2 separate regions of the Homo sapiens genome follow, and region 2 is linked to region 1. The links come from fine-mapping of genetic effects on gene expression. A gene starts in region 1. The other region holds a variant in brackets. All regions are shown on one strand. Distances are between the middles of the regions. Region 1 holds the start of LINC02604 (long intergenic non-protein coding RNA 2604). Region 2 has its middle 24 kb from the start of SBDS.

Evidence for each region. PIP is the estimated chance that this variant, and not a neighbour inherited with it, causes the effect.
Region 2: its variant is fine-mapped to the expression of LINC02604 in whole blood (TOPMed, PIP 0.92).

Annotation. Positions count from the first base shown.
Region 1 is chr7:66,896,986-66,913,343 of GRCh38, forward strand. LINC02604 (long intergenic non-protein coding RNA 2604) reads left to right here and starts at 7,135. Exons shown (of 1, transcript NR_136637.1): 1 at 7,135-9,312.
Region 2 is chr7:66,963,404-66,979,761 of GRCh38, forward strand. No RefSeq gene overlaps it. Among named protein-coding and RNA genes, the nearest start is that of SBDS, 24 kb to the right of the region's middle. RefSeq lists a silencer at 1,066-1,266. The variant G/T (reference allele first, on the strand shown) is at 8,818.

The DNA.
Region 1 (16,358 bases):
ACTTTTAGAACCATTCATTACTCTATAGAGAAATCTGCACCCTTAGCCATTACATCCACTCCCCCAACCTGCCTTTGCCCCCAGCCTCAGGCAACCATGGATTCATTTTCTGTCACTACCTAATCTGGACAAATAGAATTGTACAATAGGTGATCTTTTGTGGCATTTTTCCCTCTTAGCACAATGTTTTCAAAGTTCCTTTATGTCATAGGGTATATCAGTATTTCATTTTTTCTATGGCTGAATAATATTCCATGGTAGAGACACACTGCATTTTGTTGATCCATTTATCAGTTGGTGGACATTTGGGTTGTTTCCACGTATTGGCTATTATGAATAATGCTGCTATGAAGATTACAGTACAAGTTTTTGTGTGGACATATATTTTTATTTCTCTGGGATATATGCCTAGGAGTGAAATTGTTACATTATATTTTACATTTAACCTTTTGGGAAACTGCCAGACTGTTTTCTAAAGTGGCTACACCAGTTGGGTGCAATGGCTCACACCTGTAATCCCTGCTACTCAGGAGGCTCATTTGAGAGGATGGGTTGAGCACACAAGTTCAAGACCAGCCTGGGCAAGACAGTGAGACCCTGTCTTGATTTTTCTTTTAAAAATCCAATTAAAATGACAAGAAAAGAAATACCCAAAGTGGTTACACCATTTTATATTTCCACCAGTGATGTATGTGGGTTCCAGTTCCTCCACATCTTCACTGACATTATTTTTTTTTTCTAGACAGGGGCTTGCTCTGTCTCTCAGGCTGCAGTACAGTGACGCCATCACAGTTCACTGCAGCCTTGACCTCCCAGGCACAAATGATCTTCTCATCTCAGCCTCCTGAGTAGCTGGGAATTATAGGTACACGCCATCATGCCTGGCTAATTTTTATATTTTTTTGTAGTGATGGGGTTTTACCATGTTGCCCAGGCTGGTCTCTTACTCCTGGCCTCAAGTGATCTGCCCACCTCACCCTCCCAAAGTTCTGGAATTACAGGCTGAGCCATCATGCCTGGCCTTCACCAACATTTGTTATTGTCCATTTTTTTTCGTTTATACCTTAAAGCAGTATAAGAACAAGTGTTTTCAATTATGGTAAACAAAAAATATAATCCCGGGGCATTTGGATGCTGAGACAGGAAGATCTCTTGATGCCAGGAGGTTTTTGTTTTGTTTTGTTTTGAAACAGAATCTCACTCTCGCCCAGAGTGGAGTGCAGTGGTGTGATCTCAGCTGCCTGCAGCCTTCACCTCCCAGGTTCAAGCGATTCTCCTGCCTCAGCCTCTTGAGTAGCTGGGATTACAGGTACATGCCACTACTGCCCGACTAATTTTTGTATTTTTAGTAGAGACGGAGTTTTGCCATGTTGGTCAGGCTGGTCTCAAACTCCTGATTTCAGGTGATCCCCCTACCTCAGCCGCCCAAAGTGCTGGGATTACAGGCATGAGCCACTGTGTCTGGCCTGATGCCAGGAGTTTTAGACCAACCTAGCAAGACCTCATCTCAACAGAATATTTAAAAATTAGCCAGATGTGTTGTTGCTTGCCTATAGTCTCTTTTACTTTTTGAGACATGGTCTGGCTCTGTCAGCCAGGCTGGGGTGCAGTGGTATCATCATGGCTCACTGCAGACTGAAACTCCTGGGATCAAGTAATCAGTCCTCCCACCTTATCCTACCAAGTAGTGGGGACCACAAGTGCATGCCACCCGGGTCTTGCTATGTTGCCCAGGCTGGTTTTGAGCTCCTGGCCTCAAGCGATCCTCTCACTTTGGCCTCCCGAAGTGCAAGGATTACAGGTATGAGTCACCATGCCTGGCCCCTACCCTGCCTATTGAGAACCATAAGAAAGAACCAAATTCTCCTTAGCTCAACTCGAGCCATTTCCCAATTGGTTCTTCCACAAGGAGCTGGTTATTGAGCTGTCCAGGCCTCCCAAGCAGCACAGAAATGAGGTGAGGGAGTTTTCCTGCTGCTCCACTCTGTGAGGAGCTGGAGGATGATGTTCACTCATTTGCAGAGAGAGATGTCTTGTAGGCACCTTAGGATGGAGGGGACCCTGATTCCAATGTCCTTTTGTTTTTTTCTTTAGAAGCAGGACCTTGCTCTGTCACCCAGGATGGAGTTCAGTAGTCCAATCATGGCTCATTGTAACCTCAGATTTCCAGGCTCAAGCAATCCTCCCACTTCATCCTTCCCAGTAGCTGGGACTACAGGTTGGTGCCATGACACTCGGTGAATTTTGACTTTTTTTTTTTTTTTTGTAGAGATGGGCCTTGCTATGTTGCCAAGGCTGGCCTTGAACTCCTGCACTCAAGGGATTTTCCTGTGTTGGCCTCCCAAAGTACTGGTAATGCAGGCATGAGCCATTATGCCCAATGTCTCTGGTTCTTAACCTTCTGCCTCCCTCTTCCACATTTAAAGAACCCTTGTAATTACATGGGCTCACCCAGATACTGCAGGATAATCTTGTTTTAAGGTCAGCTGATTAGCAACATTAATTCCATCTGTACTCTTAATTCCCCCTTCCTATGTAATTATGCGGTGTAACATAGGACATGAGCAGTTGGGGGGTCATTACTTTGGCCACCACTGTGATACTTTGGCCACCACCATGACTATTTTGTGCCAGGTACTGAGGTAAGCACTGGTGAATTAAACATGAATAACACACACTCCCTAATCTCCATTCATTTATGGGAGGAGCACCTCGCTTCCCATGCTCCTGAGAATCTAGGGAGTCAAGGAAGACTTCCTGGAGGAGGTGGTGCTAAAGCGGACAAGTGACAGAGGAGCTGAAGCTAGCCAGGAAGAGAGTAGATAAGGGGAAGCGTATTCTAAGCAGAGGGCATCACCCACTTCGCAGGCTCGCAGAGAGAGAGAGTGGGCATTCAAGGGACAGATGAGGCTCAGTTGGACTCCACAGCAGGTAAAATGGAGAGGGGCAAGCAGTGAGGCTGCCTTGCAAGACAGGGCAGAGCAGGGCCTGTTAAGGAGTTTGGACTTAATCCCAAAGGCAAGGAGAAGTGATGTAAACAGGGGAGTAATGTGATGAGATTCACGTATGAGAGACATGGCTCACGCTGCTGTGTGGAGAAGGCACCAGGGGGAGCAGATGGCTCAGTGGGTGTGCTGGAGACCTAAAGCAGGGAACACACTGAGTTTAGGGAGAGTTTTTTAAAATAGCAGAAGTTTGAGTAATTTAAATGCTGGTGGGAAGGAGCTAAAAGCAGGGGACAGGTTAAACATACAGGGAAGTGGGAGGAAGAACTGACAAGTGAGGTTCCAGAGAGGGCAGGAGAAGAGGAGATTCTTATAGGGGGATTAGCATTCCTCTCCCCTCCTCTCCCCTCCCCTCTCCTCCCTTCCCCTCCCCTTCCCTAAGACAGGGTCTCACTCTGCTGCTCAGGCGAGAGTGTACTGGCATGATCTTGGTTCACTACAGCCTAGACTTCCCAGGTTCAAGGGATCTTCCGACCCCAGACTCCCAAGTAGCTGGAACTACAGTTGTGCACCACCACCATACCTGGCTAATTTTTTTTTTTTTTTGGTAGACACAGTGTCTCACTAAGTTGCCCAGCCTGGTCTCCAACTTTTGGCCTCAAGCAGTCCTTCTACCTAGGCTTCCCAAATTGCTGGGATTACAGGCATGAGCCACCATGCCTGGCCTCTGCTAGTTTTGTATTCTCTAGAATTGTCTGTAGTTAGTGCTAGTGTGTCACTCATTATGCTGATCCTCTGTTATAATTAATATTTTTTATATTAAAGTTACTTTTTTTTTTTTTGGTATTGGGTCTCAGTCTGTCACCAAGGCTGGAGTGCAGAGGCATGATCTCTGCTCACAGCAACCTCCACTTCGAAGGCTCAAGCAATTCTCCATCCTCAGCCTCCCAAGTAACTGGGATTACAGGTATGTGCCAGCATGCCTGGCTAATTTTTGTGCTTTTTTTGTGCTTTTTGTAGAGACAGGGTTTTGCCGTGTTTCCCAGGCTGGTCTCAACTCCTGAGCTCAAAGTAATCCACCCGCCTTGGCCTCCCAAAGCGCTGGGATTACAGGTTTGAGCCACCGTGCGCATTCCAGTTTAAACTTTTGAGCGGTTTATATGTTTTGATTGGACTCCTAGAAATACAGAATTGATGCTAGGAAGAGTACCAGGAGATAGACACATATACATGGGATTTCAGCCTTGGTTTGGTTATCCAAGGAGCAGTGCTGAGTTTCTTGCCAATGGGACATGGGATGCTGGTGATTTCCAGGAAGTGTCCTCACAATGAGTGAAGCTACCACTTACTGTTTATTGTGATGAAATGCTAGCCAAGGCATATGCCATGCGAGTTAACGGATGCTATGCTTCACCACTGTGGCAATAAAGATGACTCTGAAGAATGGCATGGGACGGAACCTTTCAAATGCACCTGAGCAGGGGTCTCCACCACAGGGCCACAGAGCTGGTGGTGAGCAGCAAAGTGAGGGGAAAATTCGTTTGTATTTATAGCCCCTCCCCATCGCTCGCATAACCACCTGAGCGTCATGTCCTGACAGGTCCAGCTACTGCCTTCCAGTGACCTCTTTAGGCTCATCTCATGCTTCACCGTGGCCTCGCCAAACCAAGCTGCTGCGTTTCAGCAGCCTCTGCAGCAGAGGCCGAGCTCTGCGTCCTGATCATCCTGATGGCCTCTTTAGGCCCAGCTCATTTCTCACAACGGCCACCTTAGGCCCAGCTTTTCCCTTTTGGTGGCCTCTCCAGGCCGAGAAATTCCTCAAGTCGGCCTCCCCCACCGCAGTTGCTGCCTCCCGGCCTCTTCTCCAGTCCCAGTCCTCTCTCGCAGCTGTGTCTACAGGCCCAGCTCCTGCCTCCAAAGAGCCTCTTTTGACTCGGCTCCTACCCAGCTCCTGGCAGCCTTTGTAGGCCTGAAATCTCTTCCAGTCCAGCACTCCATACCCAGTCTCCCCTCACAGCGGCCTTCCCAGGCCCAGCTTTTGCCTCACAGCGGCCTTCCCCGGCCATTTTCTAGCCGGCCTCGCGGTAGCCTCAACAAGCCCAGCTCCCGCCTCACACTGGCCTCTCTAGGCCCAGCTCAGGCGTCACAGTGGCGTCTCCAGGCCCAGCTCCCGCCCACCCCAACAGCGTCTCGCGGCTCAAGGCGTTCTCAAGATGGCCCTTCCAGGCCAAGTTCCTGCCTCCCGCCGATGGCCCGTGTGGGCCCAAAGCGTCCTGAAGTCGGCCTCGCCAGGCCCAGCTCCTGCCTGTCGTAGGCGCCTAGAGGCATGGCCTCTGCCTCCTCACAGTGGACCCCCCCAGACCCAGCTCTTGCTTCAGCATGGCCACCTCAGGCCAAGCTCCTGCCTTGCCTGTTGGCAGCCTCCACAGGCCCAGCTCTTGCCTCTCGCCATCCTCTCCAGGTCCAGAACTGTTTCCAGCCGGCCTCTCCAGGCCCAGCTCTCCCTCCCGGCTGTGGCTGCCGGCCCAGCTCCTGCCTCGCAACAGGCACGTTCGGCCCAACTCCTGCCCAGCTCATGGCAGCATTTGTAGGCCCCAGGCTCCTCTAAGTCAGGCCTTCCAGGCCCTGCCTTCAGCTCCCTGGCGGCCTGGAGAGGCCCAGCTCCTGCCTGACAGCGGCCTCTCCGGGCCCAGCTCTTGTCTCGCGTCGGCCTCCCCGGGACACATTTCCCCCTGCCTCGCGGCAGCCCCGAAAGACCCAGCTCCTGCCTCCTGATGGCCTCTTTAGGCTCATCTCATGCCTCACTGCAGCCTCCCCCAGGCCAGGCTCCTGCCTTTCGGCGGCTTCCGCAGGTCCGGCTCCTGCGTCCTGACGGCCTCTTTAGGCCCGGCTCGTCCCTCACAATGGCCTCTTTCAAAGGCCCAGCTTTTCCTTCGTGGCGGCCTCTCCAGGCCCAAATTGGCAAGCCTCCCCTGTCCTGGTGGCTGTCTCCCGGCCTACTCTCCAGGCCCAGCACACTCTCGCGGCTGTACCTCCAGGCCCAGCCCCTGCCTGCAGACAGCCGCTTTTGACTCGGTTCGTGCCCAGCTCCTGGCGGCCTTTGTAGGCCCGAAACCTCCTCCAGCACAGCTCTTCAGGCCCACCTGTGGCCTCGCAGCGGCCTTCCCAGGCCCAGCTCTTGCCTCACGGCGGCCTTCCCCGGCTGTATTCCTGCCAGCCTCTCGGCGGCCTCAAAAAGCCCGGCGCCTGCCTCACACTGGGGTCTCTAGGCCCAGCTCACGCCTGACGGTGGTCTCTCAAGGCCCAGCTCCCGCCCACCCCGACCGGCCCAAGGCTTTCTCAAGTTGGCCCATCCAGGGCCCAATTCCTGCCCTCCGCTGATGGCCTGTGCAGACCCAAAGTATCCTGAAGTCGGCCTCGCCGGGCCTAGCTCCTGCCTGTCATAGGCCCCTAGAAGCACGGCCTCTGCCTTCTAAAAGTGGAACCCCCCAGTCCCAGCTGTTGCCTCAGCGTGGCCACATCAGCCGAAGCTCCTGCCCTGCCTGTTGGCAGCCTCCATGGGCCAAGCTCTTGCCTCTCACCATCCTCTCCAGGCCCAGTACTGTTTCCAGCCGGCCTCTCCAGGCCCAACTCTCCCTCTCAGCTGTGCCTGCCGGCCCAGCTCCTACCTCGCAAAAGCCACGTTCGGCCCAGCTCCTGCCCAGCTCCTGGCAGCCTTTGTAAACCCCAGGATCCTCTAAGTCAGGCCTTTCAGGCCCTGCCTTTGGCTCCCCGGTGGCATGGAGAGGCCCAGCTCCTGCCTGACAGCGGCCTCTCCAGGCCCAGCTCTTGCCTCACGTTGGCCTCCCTGGGCCACGTTTCCGCCTGCCTCGCGGCAGCCCCGACAATCCCGGCTCCTGCCTCCCGATGGCATCTTTAGGCTCATCTCGTGCCTCACCACGGCCTGCACCAGGCCACACTCCTGCCTTTCGGTGGCCTCCGCGGGCCTGACTCCTGCGTCCCAATGGCCTCTTTAGGCCCGGCTCGTGCCTCGCCGCGGCCTCCTGAGGCCCACCTTTGCCCTTCTGGCAGCCTCTCCAGGCCCAGGACTTCCTCAAGTCGGCCTCTGCCAGCCCAGTGGCCGCCTCCCGGCCTCCTCTCCGGGCCCAGCTCCTTGCTCGTGGCTGCGCCCGCGGGCCCAGCTCCTGCCTCTGAACATCCTCCTGTGACTCGGCTCCTGCCCAGCTCCCAGCGGCCTCCGTAGACCCGAAGCCTCCTCCGGTCCAGCTCTCCAGGCCTGCCTCCTGCCTCGTGGCGGCCTTCCCCGGCCATGCTCGTGCCGGCTTCCCGGCAGCCTCCACGAGCCCGGCTCCTGCCTCACGCGGGCCCCTCCAGGCCCAGCTCGTGCCTCGCGGCGGCCTCTCCAGGCCCGGCTCCCGCCCAGCCCGACGGCGTCTCCCAGCCCAAGGCTCCCTTCCTCAACGTCGGCCCCTCTGGGCCCAGCTCCTGCCTCCCGCTGATGGCCTGTGCGGGCCCACCCGAGGCGGCCCGAAGTCGGCCTCGCCAGGCCCAGCTCCTGCCTGGCGTAGGCCCCTGGGGGCACGGCCTCTGCCCCACAGTGGCCCCTCCGGGCCCAGCTCGTGCCTCGGCTTGGCCGCCTCAGGCCCAGCTCCTGCCTGTGGGCGGCCTCTCTCCAGACCCGGCTCTCGCCTCCCGGCATCCTCTCCAGGCCCAGAGCTGTTTCCAGTTGCTAGACCATTTTTGTGCCTGCCTCGTTGCAGCATCTCCAAGCCCAGCTTTTGCTTTTCTGCAGTTTCTTGAGGCCGAACTCCATTTTTCGAATGGCTTATTTAGGCCCAGCTCTTGCGTTTGCATTGTCCCTTCAGGCCCAGAACTTTCTCACGTCATCGTCACCAGGCCTAGCTTCTGCATCTGGTCAGCCTTTTAAGGCCCAGCTTTTGCCTCATAAACTCAGCTCCTGTTTAATGGCGGCCTCCCAGGTCCCACCTTCTGCCTTCCTGTGTCCACTCCAGGCCCAGCTACTGCCTTGGTGCTCTTTTTAAGTCAATAATTTTTTCCAGTCGACCTCTCCAGGCCCAACTTGTACCTCTGAGTGTCCTCTAGGATCTCAGCTTCTGCCTAACAATGACCTCTTTAGACTCAGCTCATTTTCACTGCTACATCTTCAAGCCATTCTCCTGCCTCTTGGCAACCTCTAGTGGCCCAGCTTCTGCCTCACAGCAGCCTCTCCATGCATGCCTAGCTCCTGCCTCTTTAGGGAACTTACAGGCCTAAAACTTTCTTAATTTGGGCTTCTCAGGCCCAGCTCCTGCCTTCTGTTGGCCTCTACAGGCCTGGCATCATCCTTTCAACAGCCTCTTTAGGCCCGGCCTCTCCAGGACCAAAACATCCTTAAGTCAACCTCACCAGGCCCGGCTCCTGTCTCCTTGCGGCCTCCAGAGGCCGAGCTTTTGCCTGCCAATGGCCTCTCTAGCCCCAGCTTTTGCCTGCCAATGGCCTCTCTAGCCCCAGCTTCTGCCTTTCATCGGTCTCTCCAGGCTTAGCTCCTTTCTCTTCACGGCCTCTGCAGGCCTAAAACTTCCTCAATTTGGCATCTCCAGGCCCAGCTCCTGCCTCCAGGCCGCCTCTGCAGGCCTATCTCAAGCCTTACAACAGCCTCTTTACCCCCAGCTCCTTTCTCCGACTTGTCTCTCCAGGCCTAGAACTTCCTCATGTTTACCTCACCAGGCCCACCTCCTGCCTTCCAGTAGCGTCTACAAGTTTGGCTCCTGCCTCCCATGGATCTCTCCAGGCCCCAAACTTTCTCAAGTCAACCTCACCAGGCCCGGCTTCTCCCTTTCATCAGCCTTCCAAAGGCCAGCTTTTGCTTCATGTCTGCCTTCCGAGTCCCAGCTCCTGTTTTATGGCAGCCTCCTGAGGCCCAGCTCCTGCCTCCTAGTGGCCTCTTTTGGCCCAACTCTTTCCTCACCAGGGCCTTCCAGACCACGTTCCTGCCTTTTAGCAGCCACTACAGGCCCAGCTTTGCGTCCTTTCAAGAGTCCTGCCTCACAGTGGCCTCCCAAGGGCAACTTTCTGCCTCATGTCAGCCTCTTGTGCCCTGGTCCTGCTTCCTGGTAGACTCTGCAGGCCCTGCTCCTGCCTTACGTTGCCCCTTTTATAAAGATCCAGTTCCTGCCTCCTGGCTGCCTCTATGAGCCCAAATCCTGCCTAACAACAACCTGTTTTTGCCCAGCTCCTGCTTCCTGGCAGCCTCCTTAGGCCAAAAATTTCCTTCAGTTGACCTCTCCAGGCCCAGCTCCTGCCTCTCAGCACCCTCTTTAGGCCCAGCTCCTGCCTTAATAAATTTGAATAAATTATTGTTATGTGATTATTATGTGAAACATTTTTTCTTCAAAAGGTAATGAAAATTGAGGTAAAGTATAAAAGTCTAGCATATAAATTCCTCTATTGTCACCCTTCGTATTAGTCACAGTTCTCTAAAGGAGCAGAACTGTTAGGATAGATGTATATATATAAGGGAGTTTCTTAAGGGGTATTAACTCACAGGATCACAAGGTTCCACAATAGGCTGTCTGCAAGCTGAGGAGCAAGGAAGCCATTCTGAGTCCCAAACCTGAAGAACTTGGAGTCCGATGTTCTAGGGCAGGAACCATCCAGCATGGGAGAAAGATGTAGGCTCGGAGGCTAAGCCAGTCTCACCTCTTTATGTTCCTCTGCCTCATTTTTATTTTTGCCACACTGGCAGCTGATTAGATTGTGCCCACCTAGTTTAAGGGCGGGTCTGCCTTTCCCAGCCCCCTGACTCAAATGTTAATCTCCTTTGGCAACACCCTCACATACACACCCAGGAACAATACTTTGCATCCTTCAGTCCAATAGAGTTGACAGTCAATATTAACCATCACAAGTTCACCCCTTGTCAACTTTAACCCATACACATCTTCTGAAATTATACATAATCTTCAAATAAAGATAATAATAAGGTCATAATTGTGCCTAAGATAATAATAAAAGTATTCTTCATACAACTGGAAATGCACCAATCCTGAACCCAAATGCCCTTATATAAAACTAACACTTAGATGCTTATATGAAGTCAATATAAGTTATTCACACAATAAAGGAAAAAGGAAATGAAATATTCTTAGTACAAGCTTATATATGCACAAACATGTTTTTAACAAAAGGAGGAAATACTCATGACAATTACAGTCCTCGTTTCTGTAGCTGGTCACATGGTCATAGCTGGTATTGATGACTGCCTTTTTCTATTACCCATTCTGTATTCTTTTTGCCTTCAGAAAGCATCTCAGCAGGTTTTTTCCTGGAGTGACCCAAGCCTTCATTCCTGAAGGGTCTGGGCCATTTGTAGTCCTGCCTGGGTTGGGCTGTTATAGTTTCCCATTGACCTTAATCACAGGGCATCTCCTGTATTCCATGCATATTCTTCCTTACCTCCATTGTGGAGTAGTAGACTGATTTCATCTTGATAGTCTGGGTCAATCATCCCAGAAGGTTGTAACTCCCTTCTTAGCCTGTTGATTTAAAAGTGGCAGGACCCCAAAGTGTCCAGGTGGCAATCGTAACTTCCAGTTTAATGGAATCGTTGTGTCTCCTGGTGGCAGCTTTCTTCCCTCTGGATCTAAGACCTCTAGACCAGCAGAATGTAATGTTGTGGGAACAGGTAGCCAAAATTTTCTAGTGGATCACTAGGGGTGATGGTGAGTGATGCCACTTCCACTTCCACCCCTTGATTCCTGGACCTGTGAATCCTGGCTATGGGATAAACAATGCCATATATTGGATGCTGATTCAGAGCAGACATGGCCTTCTGGAGAAATTTGCCCCAGCCCCGCAGAGTATTATCACCTAGTTGGCATTGTAATTGTGACTTCAAAAGGCCATTCCACCATTCTATCAATCCAGCTGCTTCGGGATGGTGGGGAACATGGTGGGATCAGTGAATTCCAAGAGCATGAGCCCACTGTCACACTAGCTGTAAAGTGAGTGCCTTGGTCAGAGGCAATGCTGTGTGGAATACCATGACGGTGGATAAGGCATTCCGTGAATCCACAGATGGTAGTCTTAGCAGAAGCATTGCGTGTAGGATAGGCAAACTCATATCTGGAGTGTCCATTCCAGGGAGGAGAAACCTCTGCCCTTTCCATGATGGAAGAAGTCCAATATAATCAATCTGCCACCATGTAGCTGTGTGATCACCCAAGGAATGATGCCATATCAAGGGCTCAGTGTTGGGCACTGCTGCTGGAAAATGGGGCACTCAGCAGTGGCTGTAGCCAGGTCTGCCTTGGTGAGTGAAAGTCCATGTTGCTGAGAAAGTCTATCCCTGCCACCATGGCCACTTTGTTTATGAGCCCATTGGGCGATGGCAGTGGTGACTGGGGAAAAGGCTGAGTGGTGTCTACAGAATGAGGCACCCTGTCCACTTGATTATTAAAATCCTCCTCCGCTGAGGTCACCCTTTGGTGAGCACTCACATGAGATACAAATATCTTGACTGTTTCTGACCACTCAGAGAGGTCCATCCACATACTTCCCCAAATTTCTTTGTCACCAGTTTTCCAATCATGCTTCTTCCAAGTCCCTGGCCATAGAGCCAAACCATTGGCTACAGCCCATGAGTCAGTATATAATCGCACACCTGGCCATTTCCTTCCATGCAAAGTGCACAACCAGGTGCACTGCTTGAAGTTCTGTCCACTGGAAAGATTTTTCTTCACTGCTGTCCATAAGGGATGTCCCAGAAAGGGGCTGTAGTGCTGCAGCTGTCCATTTTTGGGTGGTGCCTGCATATCGTGCAGAACCACCTGTGAACCAGCCCCTAGTCTTCTCTTCCTCTGTCAACTGATCATAGGGAACTCCCCATGAGGCCATCATTTCAGGCTGGGGAAGAGAAGATAGGGTGGCAGGAGTGGAGACCACGAGCATTTGAGCCACTTCCTCATGTAACTTACTTGTGCCTTCAGGACCAGCTGGAGCCCGATCACATATATACCACCTCCATCTGATGATGGAATGCTGCTGTGCACGACCCACTTTATGGCTAGGTGGGTCAGAAAACACCAGTTCATGACAGGTAGTTCAGGTCTCATGGTGACTTGATGACCCATAGTCAAATGTTCAGTTTCCACCAAAGCCCAGTAATAAGTGAAGAGCTGTCTCTCAAAAGGAGAGTAGTTATATGCAGAAGATGGCAGGGCCTTGCTCCAAAATCCTAGAGGCCTATGGGGGTCTGCCAGAGGCTCCAAACACCATCCCTATCTGCCACTGACACCTCAAGCACCACTGGGTCCGCTGGGTCATATGGCCCAAGTGGCAGAGCAGCTTGCACAGTGGACTGGACCTGTTGCAGAGCCTTCTCCTGTTCTGGACCCCACTTCTGGTACCAAAATGTGTATTAGGGTCCAGGGTCCACTAAAGGGACAGAACTAATAGAATATATATATATATATATGAATTTATTAAGGGGTATTAACTCAATCACAAGGTCCCATCACAGGCCATCTGCAAGCTGAGGAGCAAGGAAGCCAGTTTGAGTTCCAAAGCTGAAGAACTTGGAGTCCGATGTTTGAAGGCAGGAACCATCCAGCACAGGAGAAAGATGTAGGCTCAGAGGCTAAGCCAGTCTAATCTCTTCACGTTCTTCTGCCTACTTTTTATTGTGGCCTCGCTGGCAGCTGATTAGATGGTGCCCACCTGGATTGAGGGTAGGTCTGCGTCTCCCAGTCCACTGACTCAAATGTTAATCTCCTTTGGCAACACCCTCACAGACACACCCAAGAACAATACTTTGCATCCTTCAATCCAATCAAGTTGACACTCAATATTAACCATCACACCCCTCCTCCTTTCCCCAATTCCCACCACAAAAGCATAATAATTTGTCCAAAGAGTCCTACACTTAGTCCTTCTCTGAACAAAATGCCGGGTGGTTGTAGGCTGAGTGTCACTCCTTTATCACGTCTCCTCAGTTTTTTTTTTTATTTTTGAGACAGGGTTTCCCTCTTGCCCAGGCTGGAGTGCAGTGACACAATCCTAGCTCACTCTAGCCTTCAATCCTGGGTTCCAAATGATCCTCCCCCTTCCGCCTCCTGAGTAGCTGGGACTACAGCTACTTAACCACTATGAACCACTTCTGGCTCATTTTTAAATTTTTTATAGATACGGGGTCTCACTAGATTGCTCAGGCTGATGTGGAACTCCTGGCCTCAAGCGATCTGCCCACCACAACCTGGTTCAAGCGATTCTGCCTCTGCCTCCCAAGTAGCTGGGATTACAAGTGCGCACAACCATGCCCAGCTAACTTTTGTATTTTTAGTAGAGATGGGGTTTCACCATGTTAGCCAGGATGGTCTCGATCTCCTGACCTCGGCCTCCCAAAGTGCTGGGATTACAGACATGACAGTGTTTTAATTGCCCATTTTAATTTTCAATTAACCTGAGAGTTTGAGAGTGATAAAGAATGTGATAAGTCCATCGAATATGCTGGTTCTTTGCTCATTGTTGCTCGGCATGGGCTGTGGATTGAGTGTCTTGATCTGGGAAAACGTAACTGAGAGTGCCAAACCAATATGGCTATCAAAGCCAAACAGACCAGGTGTGATCACTCATGCCTGTAATCCCAGCACTTTGGAAAGCTGAGGCAGGAGGATCACTTGAGCCCAGGAATTTGAGACCAGCCTGGGCAACATAGTGAGACCCTATTTCTACAAAAAAATTAAAAAATTAGCTAGGCTTGGTGGCATGCACTGGTAGTGCCAGCTACTCAAGAGGCTGAAGTGGGAGGATCGCCTGAGCCTCTGAAGTTGAGGCTGCAGTAAGCTGTGATTGCACCTCTGTACTCCTGCCTGGGCAACAGGTGATACCCTGCCTGTAAAAACTAAAAATAATTAAAAAATAAAAACAAAGCCAAACTCAGAGTATGCATGCAGACCTGTCGGTGTCCATTTAATTTCTCTTGGAAAAATGGGTAAAGGGCCAGTATCATCTACTTGCCAGCTGTGGGCTGGACTTCCTCCCCAGGAAATACTCCCAGACCTAACTGCAAACATAACCTTTTCTGTTGGTAAACAGAGCAATGTTTAGTAAACATTTGAACTTCTGCAGGGAAAGTACTACATGGTGCTCAGCCCCTCACTTCATGGCACGAGTGCCCCGGGCCCACTCATTTTATGGACCCACATTGCTACTTTATGAGATTGAAGTAGGGCAGGTGCAGTTGCTCAAGCCTGTAATCCCAGTACTTTGGGAAGCTGAAGCAGTAGAATTGCTTGAGGTCAGGAGTTTGAGACCAGCCTGGGCAACATAGGGAGACCCCATCTCTACTAAAAAAAAAAAAATTAGCTGGGTGTGGTGGCACATGCCTGTGGTCCCAGCTACTTGGGAGCCTGAGATGGGAGGATCTACTTGAATTTGGAAGGTTGAAGCTGCAGTGAGCTGTGATGGTGCTACTGCACTCCAGCCTGGGCAACAGAGCAAGACCCTGCCTCAAAAATAAATAAATAAAATGAACTAAGGGGCCAGGTGCAGTGGCTCATGCCTGTAATCCCAGTACTTTGGGAGGCCGAGGCAGGTAGATCGTTTGAGGTAAGGAGTTTGAGACCAGCCTGGCCAACATGATGAAACCTTGTCTCCACTAAAATACAAAAGTTAGCAGGATGTGGTGGTGCATGCCTGCAATCCCAACTATTCAGGAGGCTGAGCCAGGAGAATCACTTGAACCCAGGAGGCGGAGGTTGCAGTGAGCCAAGATCGCTCCACTGCACTCCAGCCTAAGTGACAGAGTGAGACTCCATCTCATAAAAAAATAAACTAGGTATTCACTTGTTGATTCTGGCCACCTTCAGACCCTGGCATAAGGCTTCTTTTGGTGAGCATTGACATGCCCTGCTTTGATTTGCCTTTTATTTTATTTATTTTATATATATTTTCAGAGACGGGGTTTTGTTCTGTTCCCCAGGCTGGAGTGCAGTGGTACGATCATAGCTCACTGCAGCCTCAACCTCCTGGACTCAAGCGATTCTCCTCCCTCAGCTCCCCAAGTACCTGGGACCACAGGCGTGTGCGACTATACCTGGCTAATTTTTTTTTTTTTATTTTGTAGAGATGGAGTCCTGCTATGTTGCCCAGGCTTGTCTCCAACTCCTGGCCTCAAGCAGTCCTCCCATCTTGGTCTCTCAGAGTGCTGAGACTATAGGCATGAGCCACTGCACCTGGTCTCACTTGCCTTTTAAATTCCCATGGAGGTTTCCCAAGGGCAGTAGTCCACAAGGGGATGCATTGTATTCTCCAGTAACGTAAGAACCCACTTAAGCCACATTGCAAGTCCACTGACAAGTGTCAATCTGCAGCCAACCAATGGGTCCTTTATCTGTGTCCAGTTCATCAATTACTGCGCTGAATATAGCCCCTGGGTCAGCTTGTGTTTGCCAATCTCCTGGACTCAGGTAGCAGCTCTCCATGTTGATCTATGGCCTGTGATTCTGAAACTGTAATCTGTGGGCCAGCCAGTTGCCTGGAATCCTCTGGCAATTGGTTGAACAGAGGGGTACATATGGCAATAGTAGCAGGCAGGTCCCTGGACATCTCTAGAGTAAGTCCTAGGAGGAGAGGCTATTTGTTCCTGAATATATTTATTTTTTAAAAAATTTTTAATATATATTTTTTGAGACAGAGTCGCACTCTGTCACCTCAGCTCGAGTGCAGTGGCATGATCTTGGCTCACTGCAACCTCTGCCTCCTGGGTTCAAGTGATTCTCATGCCTCAGTCTTCTGAGTAGCTGGGATTACAGGCGTGTACCACCATGCTCACCTAACTTCTGTATTTTGTTAGAGATAGGGTTCCACCATGTTGGCCAGGCTGGTCTTAAACTCCTGACCTCAGGTGATCTTCCCGCTTTGGCCTCCCAAAGTGCTGGGATTACAGGCATGAGCCACAATACATGGCCGATGTTTGTTTGTTTATCCATTTATTTGAGACCGGCTCTGTCACCCAGGTTGGAGTGCAGTGGCATGATCTCGGCTCACTGCAACCATCGTCTCCTGGGTTCAAGCGATTATCTTGCCTCAGCCTCCCAAGTAGCTGAGATTACAGGTGCATGCCACCACACCTGGCTAATTTTTTGTATTTTTAGTAGAGACAGGGTTTCACCATGTTGGCCAGGCTGGTTTCGAACTCCTGACCTCAAGTTATCTGCCTGCCTTGGCCTCCCAAAGTGCTGGGATTACAGGCATGAGCCGCTGCACCTCGCCAATGTTTATTTATTTATTTTTTAGAGACAGGGCCTCCCTCTGTTGCCCAGGCTGGAGTGCAATGAGGCAGTCATGGCTCACTGCAGCCTCAACCTCCTGCTTGCCTCAAGTGGGATCCTCCTGCCTCAGCCTCCTGAGTAG
Region 2 (16,358 bases), 66 kb after region 1:
CTTTTTATTTTTATTTTTTATTTTTTTGAGATGGAGTCTCGCTCTGTTGCCCAGGCTTGAGTGCAATGGCACAATCTCAGCTCACTGCAACCTCCACCTCCTGGTTCAAACAATTATCCTGCCTCAGCCTCCCAAGTAGCTGGGATTACAGGTCCCCACCACCATGCCCGGCTAATTTTTGTATTTTTAGTAGAGACGGGGTTTTGCCATATTGGCCAGGCTGGTCTCAAACTCCTGACCTCAGGTGATCTGCCCACCTTGGCTTCCCAAAGTGCTGGGATTCCAGACGCGAGCCACCACACGCAGCTCCTTTTTTTTTTTTTTTTTGAGACGGAGTTTCACTCTTGTTGCCTAGGCTGGAGTGCAATGGCCCGGTCTTGGCTCACTGCAACCTCCGCCTCCCTGGTTCAAGCGATTCTCCTGTCTCAGCCTCCCAAGTAGCTGGGATTACAGGTGCACGCCACCACACCTGGCTAATTTTTGTATTTTTAGTAGAGACGGCGTTTCACCATGTTGGTCAGGCTGGTCTTGAACTCCTCACCTCAGGCAATCTGCCCACCTTGGCCTCCCAAAGTGCCGGGATTACAGGTGTGAGCCACTGCACCCAGCCCTTTTTTGAGACAGTCTTGCTCTGTCACCCAGGCTGGAGTGCAATGGCGCGATCTCAGCTCACTGCAACCTCCACCTTCTGGGCTCAAGCGATTTTCCTGCCTCAGCCTCCCGAGTAGCTGAGATTACAGGCGCCTGTCACCATGCCCAGCTAATTTTTTTTTTTTTTTTTTTGTATTTTTAGTAGAGACAGGGTTTCGCCATATTGGCCAGGCTGGTCTCAAACTTCTAACCTCAAGTGATCTGCCCCCGTCGGCCTCCCAAAGTGCTGGGATTACAGGCGTGAGCCACCGCAGCAGCTGGGGCTGGTTGAGATTCTAAAGAAAGAAACACTAACTGCCAGGGTGATCAGGCCAGAACATTTATTAGGGGAATTTACTTAGGAGGGCTGCAGTGATCCTCACAACAGTGAGAGAAAAGGGAGGTTCTACCTAGGTATGTCTTCAGTGAGGGGCTCAGGGACAGGAATTTTTATGAGAGTATGAGAAATTTGGCTCAGGACCAGTTTTTTTTTTTTTTTCCAGTGTTTCGAGCAACAATCTAGATGCCTTTATCAGTGTCTGAGAATGTTCAAGGGAACATTCTGCTGGGAAGATCCTGCAGCTGCCTGGGTCACAGCATGGTGAAGGCATGCTGATGTTTAGTCAGGATGCAGGCTCCTTTAAAAAAAAAAATTCTAAAAAAGATATCCCTTAGCAAACTAAACGCAGGAACAGGAAACCAAATACCGCATGTTCTTGATTATAAGTGGGAGCTAAATGATGAGAACACATGGACACATAGAGGGAAACAACACGCACTGGGGCCTATTAGAGGGCGGAGAGTGGAAGGAGGGAGAGGATCAGGAGAAACAACTAATGGGTACTAGGCTTAATACCTGGGTGATGAAATAACCCCCATGACACAAGTGTACCTACGTAACAAACCTGAACCTGTACCCTTGACCTTGAAAGTTAAGAAAAATTTGGGCCAGGTGCGGAGGCTCATGCCTGTAATCCTAGCACTTTCAGAGGCCGAGGAGGGTGGATCACGAGGTCAAGAGATTGAGACCATCCTGGCCAACATGGTGAAACCCCATCTCTACTAAAAATACAAAAATTAGGGCCAGGCACGGTGGCTCAAACCTGTAATCCCAGCGCTTTGGGAGGCCGAGGCGGGCGGATCACGAGGTCAGGAGATCGAGACCATCCTGGCTAATGCAGTGAAACCCCGTCTCTACTAAAAATACAAAAAAATTAGCCAGGCGTAGTGGCGGGCGCCTGTAGTCCCAGCTACTCTGGAGGCTGAGGCAGGAGAATGGCTTGAACCCGGGAGGCGGAGCTTGCAATGAGCCGAGATCTCGCCACTGCACTCCAGCCTGGGTGACAGAGCAAGACTCCATCTCAAAAAAAAACAAACAAAAAAAACCAAAAATTGACTGGGTGGTGGTGGTGCATGCCTGTAGTCCCAGCTACTCAGGAGGCTGAGGCAGGAGAATCACTTGAGCCTGGGAGGTGAAGGTTGCAGTGAGCCGAGTGTGCCACTGCACTCCAGCCTGGTGACAGAGCAAGACTCTGTCTCAAAAAAAAAAAAAAAATTCAAAAGGTATCAACCCAGCCTGGGCAACACAGCAAGACCCTATCTCCACAAAAAATAAAAAAATTAGCCGGGTGTGGTGGCATACACCTGTAGTCCCAGCTACTTGGAGGCTGAGGTGGGAGGATTGCTTGAGTCCAGCAGTTTGAGGCTACAGTGAGCTATCTTTTTGGCACCAGGGACTGGTTTTGTGGAAGACAGTTTTTCCATGGATGGGGAGTAGTAGGGGATGGTTTTGGGATGAAACTGTTCCACCTCAGATCATCAGGCATTAGATTCTCATAAGGAACATGCAACCCAGATCCCTCCAATGTGCAGTACACAATAGGTGCTCTTATGAGAACCTAATGCTGCCACTGATCTGACAGGGGGTGGAGCTCAGGTGGGAATGCGAGCAATGGGGAGTGGCTATAAATACAGATGCAGCTTCACTTGCTTGCCCGCTGCTCACCTCCTGCTGTGCAGCCTGGGCACTGGAGACCACTGAGCTATGATCACCCCACTGCACCCAAGGCTGGGTGACAGAGCAAGACCCTGTCCCAAAAAAGAAAAAAAGACTGGGCACGGTGGCTCACACCTGTAATCCCAACACTTTGGGAGGCCAAGGTAGGTGGATCATCTGAGGTCGGGAGTTTGAGACCAGCCTCGCCAATGTGGCGAAAACCTGTCTCTACCAAAAATACAAAAAATAGCCAGGCGTGGTGCTGCATGCCTGTAATCCCAGCTACTCGGCAGGCTGAGGCAGGAGAATTGCTTTGGTCCAGGAGGCAGAGGTCACTCTTGTCTCCCAGGCTGGAGTGCAGTGGCACGATCTCGGCTCACTGCAAACTCTGCCTCCCCGGTTCAAGCAATTCTTCCGGCTTCAGCCTCCCGAGTAGCTGGGGTTACAGCACCTGCCACCACGCCTGGCTATAATTTTTTTGTATTTTTAGTAGAGACGGGGTTTCGCCATGTTGCCCAGGCTGGTCTTGAACTCCTGACCTCAGGTGATCCACTCACCTCGGCCTCCCAAACTGCTGGGATTACAGGCATGAGCCACCGTGCCCAGCCCCAAACAAAGTACACTTTTGCTTCAATTTAGTTTCATTGCTGGAAAATACAATGTATGTTAAGACTGTGCAAAAAATCCTTTCTGCAAAATAGAGTTCAGTTCAGGGCTCAAATGAGGATGAACATTTTTCATCTGTGTGAATGTTGGATACGACACTGGAGCCACATGGAACTTGGGACAGATCTTTGCAGAGTCTATGTCTGTATCCCAGGAGTGGGTTGCTATTATTAATATTATCTTTTAGATAGAGCCTCACTCTGTTGCCCAGGCTGGAGTACACTACAGTGGCATGATCATAGCTCACTGCAGCCTCAACCTCCCCAGCTAAAGTGATCCTCCCGCCCCAGCCTCCCAAGTAGCTGGGACCACAGGCAGGCACCACCATGCCCAGCTAGGTTGTTTTGTTTTGTTTTGGCTTGCTATGTTGCCTAGGCTGGTCTTGAACTTTTGGGCTCAAACAATCCACCTCCCTCAGCCTCCCAAACTGTTGGGATTACAGGTGTGAGACACTGCGCCTGGCCACAGGTTGCTATTACATTATTGTGATGATCAGAAAACCCCAAATTTCCAAAGTGACCTCAAGGGGGTGGCATCACCCACCACGGTTCTAGCATCCTGCCCAAGACAGAGCGGTTCCTGATTGCCTCAGCCTTTGACTTTCGACCCACCCTGGGCACCTAGGGCAGCTGTCACCCCCTACCCCCGCAGGCCAGGTCCACCAGCCTGAGGTCTGTTCCTCTTCCTTGGGGTTTACCTGACTGCCCTGCACCTCAAGATGATGATGGCGGCTGAGGAGGGACTGCCCTCTTCCTAGCCCTCCTGGAGGGAGAGGGAATGGATCCAGAGGATGGACCAGCCCTAAAGATGTCCATTTGACACCCAAGGAAGCCCAGTGTTGGGCGTGGTGGTTCCCGCCTATAATCCTAGCACTTTGGGAGGCCAAGGCAGGAGGATCACTTGAGGCCAGCAGTTCGAGACCAGCCTGGCCAACATGGGAAAACGCCGTATCTACAAAAATTACAACAATTAACCGGCCGTGGTGGCGCATGCCTGTAATCCCAGCTACTTGGGAGGCTGAGGCAGGAGAATTGCTTGAATCCAGTAGGCAGAGGTTGCAGTGAGCTGAGATCACGCCACTGCACTCCAGCCTGGGCCACAGAGCAAGACTCCGCCTCTAAAAAAAAAAAAAAGGAAGCCCAGGTTCCACCCAGGCAGCCATTGATGCTGGGAGACAAATGGTATACTTCTTTTATTTCCATCTTGTTTTCTGCATGTATCCTTGCCCCCCCCACCACACACACACACACACACACACACACACACACACACACACACACACACACAAGCAAATCACAGAATGCTGTGGGAACTAGAAGAGGGAGTAACTGTACCCACTGTCATGTGCATTTTTTTCGCACCCAGATACATAATGATAGCCCATACTCTGGGGTGTGGGAAATGCCACCCACAAAGTTGGTAGCACAACACGGCCATGCCATGGATTGGACGAGATGTGCGGCCCGTGTTGGATGATTCACAAATGGCGTGAATTGGAAAGAATGAGCCAAAAATACACAGTGGGAAACCAAAAGGTTGGCCAGAAGTGTGTGATATCTAGAGGATGTGGGATATGCAACTTTTAGTGACAGCGACATTAGAGATCTTGGCCTGGGTTAGATTCCAGAAAAATGAGAGATGTCAAAAGTCTAAGCAAAGCAAGCCAGGCAAAGAAAATCCTGGAGGTGGGTCTGGCCACAATTCGAGTGTCAGCAACAAATGGATGAAGTGTGTGTGTTTGTGTGTGTGCATGCGTGCACGCGTGTGTGTTTCTTAGATGGGACCTTCCAGAGTATATCTTCGGCCAAATTTTTTTTTTTTTTTAGAGACAGGGACTTGCTCTGTCACCCAGGCTGGAGTGTAGTGATGTAAGCATAGCTTACTGCAGCCTCAAACTCCTGGCCTCAAGTGATCCTCTCGCCTTGGCCTCCCAAAACACAGGGATTATAGCTGTGAGCCACTCCACCCAGCCCACTTTCATGTGTCCTATTTATTTTATTTTATAATTTTTTTTTTGGAGATGGGGTCTTGCTATGTTGGCCAGGTTGGTCTTGAACTCCTGGTTCCAAGCAATCTTCCTGCCTTGGCCTCCCAAACTGCTGGGATTATAAGTGTGAGCCACTATGCCCAGACAATCTTCGTGTATCTTTTCTTTTTTTTTTTTTTGAGATGGAACCTTGCTCTGTCACCCAGGCTGGAGGGCAGTGGCGTGATCTCAGCTCACTGCAATCATTGCCTCCCGGGTTCAAGTGATTCTCCTGCCTCAGCCTCCTGAATAGCTGGGATTACAGGCACCCACAACCACGCCCAGCTACTTTTTGTATTTTTAGTAGAGACGAGGTTTCACCATGTTGTCCAGGCTGGTCTCGAATTCCTGACCTCAGGTGATCTGCCTGCCTCGGCCTCCCAAAGTGCTGGGGTTACAGGCGTGAGCCACCACACCTGGCCTCTTCTTTTTTTGAGACAAGGTCTTAGTCACTCAGGCTGGAGTGCAGTGGCTCAATCATAGCTCACTGCAGCCTTGATCTGCTGAGCGATCCTCCTGCCTCAGCCTCCCAAGTAACTGGGACTACAGGTGAGTGTCACCACACCTGGCTTTTCTTTTTTCTTTTTTTTTTTTTTTTTTTTTAGAAACAGGGTCTTGTGATGTCATCCATGCTGGTCTTGAAGTCCTGGGCTCAAGTGATCCTCTTGCCTCAGCATCCCAAAGTGCTGGGATTATAGGCGTGAGCCACTGTGCCCAGCCCATCTTTGTGTATTTTAAGCCCCAATTCTAAAAACCTGAAACATGCATACCTTATTTAGAGCAAACAATGGTGCTTTTCTCCTTGGTAGCCAGTTCTGATTCCTGGTAGCCAGCAATTACTAATGTCCAGGTCATGGACAGGGAGTGGCTTACTGGGAGACAGGAGAACCTAGTGGTTAGCAGGTTGGGTTTAGGATTAGGAGCTGGCTTGCCTGGGTTCAAAATCTGGCACTGATGCTTCTTTGGGTAATTTTGGGCAAATTTCTTTTTTTAAAAAAATAGAGTTGGTTGGGGGGGGGGGTGTCTCACTATGTTACCCAGGCTGGTCTCGAACTCGTGGTTTCAAGTGATCCTCCCACCTCCACCTCTCTAAATGGTGGAATTACAGGCGTGAGCCACTGCCCCCAGCCACAAATTTCTTTTCTTCTTCTTTTTTTTTGAGATGGAGTCTTGCTCTTGTTGCCCAGGTTGGAGTGCAATGGCATGGTCTCAGCTCACTACAATTTCCGCCTCCCAGGTTCAAGCATTCTCCTGCCTCAGCCTCCCGAGAGGCTAGGATTACACGTGCCTGCCACCATGCCTGGCTAATTTTTGTATTTTTAGTAGAGACGGGGTTTCACCATGTTGGCCATACTGGTCTCCTGACCTCACGTGATCCACCTGCCTCGGCCTCCCAAAGTGCTGGGACTACAGGAGTGAGCCACCATGCCCGGCCGCAAATTTCATTTGTACTCTGTATGCCTCCATTTCATCATCTGTAAAAATAGGGATAATAATAGCACTTACTACCCAGCGTTCTTGTGAAGATTAAATGAATTAAGATATGTGAAGCCTGTAGATGGTCATTGTTTTCTGTAATTGGAGGAAGGGTGGTTAGAGTCAGCCTGCCTACCTCACACTCAGTCCATCCAGGGAATTACGTGTGTGCGTGGGACAGTTTTTGCAGGTCAAAACTGCAAAACAGTTTGGCAGAGGCAGGAACAGAGCTGTGTTTACAAGCCCCGCCCCTGTCCTATTCAGGCCCTTCCTACCTCAGTCCCTGTGATACTGGAGGAGGGCAGGGAAGTGCTGGGTAGAGAAAGGCGGGTCCCTGCTAGGGCTGCATCCCCATGGACCTAGGTGAGGACAGGCACATCTGCCTTCATGCCCAAATGTTGCATTTTCCACTTCTTATGACCTTCCTGCTGAAGGATGCAGAGGGCTTGGAGCTCACCCAGCTGCAGTTTCGAGCCCCCATTGGTAATGCCAGTACCTTGGAGTTAGGGCAGGGGAGTGAGGTCGTGGCTGCCCAGCCCTGCCAGAGGTTGCAGGGAGCAGTCAGATAGTTATGTATTGAGTTCTGGTCCTGCAAAGCCAGCCCAAAGCTGCAGGAACCTGGCTGGAGCTGGATGTGGAGGGTGTTTGGGACTGGCCAGCCCTGTGGCAGTCTTCGGCTGGCACAATGGCATGGGTACAAACATGGCATCTGTATCAGCCCATTCTTGCATTGCTATAAAGAGCTACCTGAGACTGGGTAAGTTATAAAGAAAAGAAGCTAAATTGGTTCACGGTTCCACAGGCTGTACAGGAAGCATGGCTAGGGAGGCCTCAGGAAACTTACAATCATGGCAGAAGGCGAAGAGGCACGTCTGCATGGCTGGAGCAGGAGGAAGAGAGTGAAGGGGGAGGTGCCACATACTTTTTTTGGTTTTGTTTTGAGATGGAGTCTCACTCTATTGCCCAGGTTGCAGTGCAATGGCAAGATCTTGGCTCACTGCAACCTCCACCTCCCGGGTTCAAGTGATTCTCCTGCCTCAGCCTCCCAAGTAGCTGGGATTATAGGCATGCGCCACCACACCCAGCTAATTTTTGTATTTTTAGTAGAGATGGGATTTCACCATGTTGGTCAGGCTTGTCTTGAACTCCTGACCTCAGGTGATCCAGCCGCTTTGGTCTCCCAAAGTGCTGGGATTACAAGTGTGAGCCACCACGTCCAGCTGGTGCCACATACTTTTAAACAACCAGATCTTGCGAGAACTCACTATCATAGGAACAGCAAGAGGGAAATCCGCCCCCATGATCCAATCACCTCCCACCAGGCCCCTCCTCCAACACTGGGGACCACAATTCAACATCAGATTTGGGCAGAGACACAAATCCAAACCATATCAGCATCTCAACACAAAAATACCCCTAAAACCTCTGGGCACAGGTGGCAGTGAGCTGAGATCGTGCCACTGCACTCCAGCCTGGGTGACAGAACGATACTCTGTCTCCAAAAAAAAAAAAAATTAAAATTAAAAGGAAGAATAATCTTAGGAAAGAAGTTTTCACATTATATTCAGATTTTTTCTTTTCTTTCTTTTTCTTTTTCTTTCTTTTTTTTTTTTTTTTTGAGATGGAGTCTCACTCTGTCACCCAGGCTGGAGTGCAGTGGCACAATCTCGGCTCACTGCAAGCTCCGCCTCCCGGGTTCACACCATTCTCCTGCCTCAGCCTCCTGAGTAGCTGGGACTACAGGCGCCCACCACCACGCCCAGCTAATTTTTTGTATTTTTAGTAGAGATGGGGTTTCACCATGTTAGCCAGGATGGTCTCCATGTCCTGACCTCGTGATCTGCCCGCCTCGGCCTCCCAAAGTGCTGGGATTACAGGCGTGAGCCACTGCGCCCGGCCTGCAGATTTTTTCTTTACTTCATTTATTTATTTACTTATTTTAAGAGACAGGGTCTCACTCTATTACCCAGGCTGGTCTTGAACTCCTGGGCTCAACAGATCTTCCTGCCTTGGCCTCCCAGTG[G/T]GTGAGCCGGTGGACCTGGCCATCTTCAAAAATTGAAATCACTGAAAGGCACCTGGTCATCATTTTCTTGTCAAACTTTTCAATCAGAGCAAGTAATCTGTGGTTGCCCAGCCTTCAGATTAGTAGACTCGAGTGGAGACCAGGCCATATTCCAGGGAGCCACCTCAGGCCTTTTGACCTGGAACGCACAGGTGATTACCACAGCCCAGGGTGATAAAGAACTCATTCCTATGACTTGAAAGGGTGATTTTAATGTGTGCTGGACATTGCCCTAAGTATTTACGCACATTATCTCACTTAGCTCTTTACCAGTGAATGAGGTACCTATTAGCAGCCTCCTTCCACAAATACATTGAAGTTGAGTGAGATTAGATAAATTGCTCACCTGTCTTAGCAAAGGCTTTCTGGTATGAGTTACAGAAACGAACTTCAGCTGAATCTTTTGCAAAGAAAAAGAATATGGGACCCGGGGCGTGGCTCACGCCTATAATCCCAGCACTTTGGAAGGCAAAGGCAGGCGGGTCACCTGAGGTCAGGAGTTTGAGATCAACCAGGCCAACATGGTGAAATCCTGTCTCTACTAAAAATACAAAAATTAGCCAGGCGTGGTGATGGGCACCTGTAGTCCCAGCTACTCAGGAAGCTGAGGCAGGAGAATTGCTTGAACCCGGTAGGTGGAGGTTGCAGTGAGCTGAGATCACGCCATTGCACTCCAGCCTGGGCGACAGAGCGAGACTCCGTCTCAACATAAATTAATAACAAATAAGAAAAAGAATACAGGTGGGCAGCCAAAGTTACTTGTAGGCTCTCAGGATATCTCGCTGAATCCAGGGGCTGATTTGCTACGAGACAGAGGAAGGTGCTGAACCTGGCTCAGGAGACAGCTGGAAACTCAGGTAACAGACCCCAGAGTCCTCTTTTTCTCCACCTGCAGAATGGGTTCTTTCTCTTGGTATCTGTATCCTTGTAGAGAAGCATGGCTGCCCCACAACTCCTGGAATCACAGAAGACAGGTTCAGCCATCTGCAAAAATCCATGATTATTGTTCTGTCCATATTCTAAACTCCTTAGAGAGACAATCGTTATCTTCTTAGCAAAGGTTATTCCTTTTATGTGGTTGCATAAGAGTCTGTCTGTCTCGCTCTCTCTTTCTTCCCCCTTGTGTTGAGAGACAGAGATTCTAGAGAAGAAATGGAAGAATCGTGGGCTGGGCAGATATCCTAAAATGTGCCTGCTGCATACCAACTTTACACAACTAGTAAGGTTTAAATTCCTGTCTTTCCAACTCTGTTTCAAATAGACTCTGGACTGGTCAGCCGCAGTGGCTCACACCTGCAATCCCAGCACTTTGGGAGGCTGAGGCGGGCAGATCACTTGAGGCCAGGAGTTCGAGACCAGCCTGTGCAACATGGCGAAACGCGGTCTCTACTAAACACACAAAAATTAGCCGGGCGTGGTGGCGGGCGCCTGTAATCCCAGCTACTCAGGAGGCTAAGGCGGGAGAATCACTTGAACCTGGGAGGCAGAGGTTGCAGTGAGCAGAGGTCCCATCACTACATTCCAGCCTGGGCGACAGAGCAAGACTACTCCAGCCTGGGCAATAGGGCAAGACTCCGTCTCAAAAAAAAAAAAAAAAAAAAAAAAACACTAAACAGGCCAAGCGAGGTGGCTCCCACCTGTAATCCCAGCACTTTGGGAGGCTGAAGGGGGCAGGTCACCTGAGGTCAGGAGTTTGAGACCAGCCTGACTAAAATGGAGAAACCCCGTCTCTACTGAAAATAGAAAATTAGCCAGGCATTGTGGTGCATGCCTGTAATCCCAGCTACTCGGGAGGCTGAGGCAGGAGGATCATTTGAACCCGGGAGGCGGAGGTTGTGGTGAGCCGAGATCGCGCCATTGCACTCTAGCCTGGGCAACAAGAGTGAAACTCTGTCTCAAAAACAAAGCAACAAACAAATTAAGGAACAAACACCTCTGGCTGGGCTATTCCCACTTCCATAGTACTTTAAAACAAATCTGATACTTTTTTTTTCTTCCCGAGAGGGAATCTCGCTCTGTCGCCCAGGCTGGAGGGCAGTGGGGCAATCTCGGCTCACTGCAAGCTCTGCCTCCCAGGTTCACGCCATGCTCCTGCCTCAGCCTCCCGAGTAGCTGGGACTACAGGTGCCCACGACCACGCCCGGCTAATTTTTTGTATTTTTGGTAGAGACGTGGTTTCACCGTGTTAGCCAGGATGGTCTTGATCTCCTGACCTTGTGATCCACCCACCTCGGCCTCCCAAAGTGCTGGGATTACAGGCGTGAGCCACCGCGCCTGGCCTGATACTTAAGTCTCTGTCAGCCTCTCAAGAGGGCCATCCCATCTATAGCCATATCCCTCTGAAACATCCCATCTCACCAAAAGGACCACCAGGGTTTGAGAAAATCTGCGGCAGATCTTGCTGGGCTGAAGTCTTACGTACGTTTGATCTCTCGGCATTTCTGTTGTGTTCCTCCCTACGCCCCCAGCTCTGAACTGTCTAAATGCCTGTTCTTACCTTAAAATATTGATCTACAAACTAGAATAGTGGTTCTGAAACTTTAGCGTGCATCAGAGTCACTTGGAGAGTTTACTGACTTATAGATTTACAGTTTATTGAGATTAAAAATTGCTGGGCCCCGTCTCTGATTGATTAGGTTTGGAATGAGGTTTAAGATTTTTCTTTTTTGAGACGGAGTCCCGCTCTGTCACCCAGGCTGGAGTGCAATGGTGCGATCTCGGCTCACTGCAACCCCCGCCTCCCAGGTTCAACCAATTCTCCTGCCTCAGCCTCATGAGTGGCTGTGATTGCTGGCGTGAGCCACCACACCCGGCTAATTTTTGTATTTATAGTAGAGATGGGGTTTCGCCATTTTGGCCAGGCTGGTCTCGAATTCCTGACCTCAGGTTATCTGCCTGCCTCGGCCTCCCAAAGTGCTGGGAATCCAGGCGTGAGCCAGCGCGCCCGGCCAAGATTTTGCATTTGTAACAAGTTCTTGTTACCTACGCAGTGGATGAGTTCAGTCGCTTGGTGGATTACAGACAGCTCCCAAAACAGTGCCACTTGGAGAGTGGGGGCTGGGTTGGCTTTTATAGGCCTAGGCTAATGAGTCATGATATGATTGGATCTTGTAGTCAGGTGATGCCAGGAGGTGTGATCTGACTGGATGCTGCAATGGGGTGATGCCAGGGCTCAATCTGATTGGATCCTGGATCCTGGTGGGCTGTGTCTGTTTCTTAATTTAGTCCCCATGCCCCGATCCTAGCACTTAGGATCCCCCTGTGGGTGCAGGCTTGGTTCGTCTGGACGTGCTCAGGTTACATAATCTGAGGGTTCCAGGCAACTGATAAACTAACGACTTTGTTACATAAAAGTTGAAGCAGGCCGGGCGCGGTGGCTCATGCCTGTAATCCCAGCACTTTGGGAGGCCGAGACGGGCGGATCACGAGGTCAGGAGATCGAGACCATCCTGGCTAACACGGTGAAACCCCATCTCTACTAAAAATACAAAAAATTAGCCGGCCTGGTGGCACACACTTGTAGACCCAGCTACTCAGAAGGCTGAGGCAGGAGAATGGCGTGAACCCAGGAGGCGGAGCTTGCAGTGAGCCGAGATTGAGCCACTGCACTCCAGCCTGGGCAACAGAGCGAGACTCTGTCTCAAAAAAAAAAAAAAAAAAAAGTTGAACCAGATTGGTCTAGTGCAGCTACAGGCGCGGTGGCTCACGCCTGTAATCCCAGGACTTTGGGAGGCTGAGGCAGGCGATCCTAATGGTGTATCCCCACTTTGAGAACTACTTAACTAGAAGAAGCCAAAGTCACGAATACATCCCCTAATGCAAAGCCTCACAACTAGCAGGCGATCAATACATGCTTATTTTATAAACTTCCTAATGCAGAGAGTCCAATTTTTCTCTATTTCTTCACGTCGATTTAATTACTTAGATTGGAGTCTTTGTCAGCCGGGCGCAGTGGCTCACTCCTGTAATCCCAGCACATTGGGAGGCTGAGGCGGGGGGATCACCTGAGGTCAGGAGTTCGAGACCAGCCTGACCAACATGGAGAAACCCCATCTCTATTAAAAATACAAAATTTGCCGGGCGTGGTGGTATATGCCTGTAATCCCAGCTACTTGGGAGGCCGAGGCAGGAGAATCGCTTGAACCTGGGAGGCGGAGGTTGCGGTAAGCTGAGATGGCGCCATTGCACTCCAGCCTGGGCAACAAGAGCGAAACACCGTCTCAAAAAAAAAAAAAAAAAGATTGGAGTCTTTGTCCAAAACATGCTGTTTCAGAATTAAGCGGTGGGGGGGGGGGGGGGGAATAATTGTAATAAAAAGTTCTGTTTGCCTTTATTATTTATGCATTTATTTATTTTCAGGACGGAGTCTCTCTCTGTCACCCATGCTGGAGTGCAGTGGCCTGATCCTGGCTCACTGCAACCTTCGCCTCCAGGGTTCAAACGATTCTTCTGCCTCAGCCTCCTGAGTAGCTGGGATTACATGATGTCTGGAATCTATGAATAACATTGGTTTCTAAGTTATGAGTTGAGTTTTAACTACTGGGTTTAGACCAGGCAGGCCCAGGCGTGGTTTCGGGCATGGCGCTGGGCTGCCTGTCTTTGGTTTTACTTCCTTGTTGTTTTTTCTTAAAACAGGTACTGAGTATAAAACAATATAAAACAATATGAGAGGATCTCTCTCTTCCCTCATCACTGTGTTAGCCAGGCTGGTCTCGAACTCCTGACCTCAGGTGATCCATCCACCCTTGGCCTCCCAAAGTGCTGGAATTACAGGCGTGAGCCACTGCACCTGGCCCTATGTTTGCCTTTATAAATAAGATTTATTTTAGCTCTTCTTTCTTTCTAATGCAAAGTACTTTAACAATTTTAAAAAATTAAGTGTTTCAATCGGGTGGGTATGGTGGCTCATGCCTGTAATCCCAGCACTTCTGGAGGCTGAGTCAGGAGGATCGCTCGAGCCCAGGGGGTTGAGACTAACCTGGGAAACATTGTGAGACCCCATCTTTATTTTTAAAAATGATTTCAATACAGAAAATGCCTGTTATTGCCATAAAGAGCTATCTTGATAGCTGGACCATTGCACTTCAGGAGTAGCTGTTGTATGGCAGCCGTGGAAATTGTGCAGTGCTCAGCCTGTGCAACCACATGTGGCAGCCTGGTGGAGAGTTTCTCTGCGATAAATAGTAATGAAATATTTCTCTCCCTCCCCACTTTTCAAAGCTTCTTTTTTTTTTTTTTTTTCTGAGACAGTTTCACTCTTGTGGCCCAGGCTGGAGTGCAATGGCGTGATCTCAGCTCACCGCAACCTCCGTCTCACGGGTTCAAGCAATTCTCCTGCCTCAGCCTCCCGAGTAGCTGGAATTACAGGCATGCGCCACCATGCCCAGCTAATTTTGTATTTTTGGTAGAGACAGGGTTTCTCCATGTTGGTCAGGCTGGTCTCGAACTCCTGACCTCAAGTGATCCGCCTGCCTTGGCCTCCCAACTTGCTGGGATTACAGGCCTGAGCCACCGCCTGGCCTCAAAGCTTCTTTTGTTAAAGGTTTGGGCTATTTTTTAGTAACTTTTAGTCTCATTGCATTTTTTCCCAGCTTCCTTTCCTTTTTTTTTTTTTTTAATTGAGACCGAGTCTTGCTTTGTTACCGAGGTTGGAGTGCAGTGATAAAATCTTGGCTCACGCCAACCTCCACCTCTCAGGTTCAAGCGATTCTCCTGCCTCAGCCTCCCAAGTAGCTGGGATTACAGGTGCCCACCACCACGCCCGGCTAATTTTTGTATTTTTAGTAGAGATGGCATTTCACCATGTTGGCAAGGCTGGTCTCGAACTCCTCACCTCAAGTGATATGCCTGCCTCAGCCTCCCAAGTGCTGGGATTATAGGCATGAGCCACCGCACCCAGCGCTTTCCTTTTCTCTTGATGTGACTTGCTAAACCACTTGACAAAGAAGCTGAGGTTATTAGGCTTTTCTTTTCACAAATAAGGTGAATGAATCATAAGCCCATGTCTGCTGCTTTATTTACTGAATTAGTGTTCTAAAAATAAAACAGCACTCTTTAAGTCCAACATTTATACCTAAATTCTGGGCCCTGAAATGTAATTGTGCACCTGGGCCCGTATTTAACTTCAAATTCTCCATCTGTGTAAGATGCATAATACCAGGTCTACTATGCAGACAGTTACGGTAAGTCAGACGATGTCTGAAAAACACTTGAGACACACAGTTGCCATGTTCTGTGTACTGACGGAAAGTATGAAATTAGCAAAACATGCAGGGAATATTCAGCTGTATTCATTACTGTGTTTGGGCAAAATACGGTAAAGAAATTGCTCAGCATAGTTTCTCTGAAGATGTTTGGGTATACTTAGTATGCTTTGCAAACCTTGGAATTGGATTTAATTTTTACTTAGAGAATTAAGCATCTAATTATTGCCACAAAAAATAGTAGATTAAGGCCATGCACAGTGGCTCACGCCTGTAATCCTAGCACTTTGGGAGGCTGAGGCAGGTGGATCACCTGGGTTCAAGGGTTCGAGACCAGCGTGGCCACTGTGATGAAACCCCGTCTCTAATAAAAAAAAAAAATTTAGCTGGGCATGGTAGGGGGCGCCTGTAATCCCAGCTACTTGGGAAGCTGAGGCAGGAGAATCACTTGAACCCAGGAGGCGGAGATTGCAGTGAGGAGAGATTGCCCCACTGCACTCCAGCCTGGGCAACAGAGCGAGACTCTGTCTCAAACAAACAAACAAAATAGTAGATTAAGTTTGGGCAACATAGGAAGACCCTGTCCCTACAAAAAGTTAAAATAATTAGCTAGGCGTGGTGGCACAAGCCTGTAGTTCCAGCAACTCTGGAGGCTGAGGCAGGAGGATTGATTGAACCTAAGAGTTCTAGGCTGCAGAGAGCTATGATTGCACCACTGCACTCTGTTACAGATGTATACATGTACTGAGTCATGATGGAAAATGGATTGATTTAGAAATGTTTGGGTATGATGGCTTGCTCATTGCCCTTCTATGGTTCACTATAGCTTAGGCTATTTGGAGAAAAGCAAAACATTTGAAAGCTGAAACATTCAAAACATTCAAAGATTCAAAGCTGAAATCTGTGATCCATGCCATGAAACTCAAGGAAAAAAAAATGCGGCAGTTATTTTAGTGGCACCAAGTCCTGGGGCTCCTGGATCCCAGCCTAGGAGGAGAGGGACGTGAAGAAAAGTAAGGGCCAGCACATTTTGACTGTTCTGGGGAAAAGGAACTGCAGCAAGAAGTAACTGCTCTGCTCAAAACATTCCTATTCTCTCTCTCTCTCGTCTCACTCTGTCACTCAGGCTGGAGTGCAGTGGTGCGATCTCGGCTCACTGCAACCTGTGCCTCCTGGGTTCATGTGATTCTCCTGCCTCAGTCTCCCTAGTAGTTGGGATTACAGGTACCTACCACCACTCCCAGCTAATTTTTTGTATTTTTAGTAGAGAAGGGATTTCACCATTTTGGCCAGGCTGGC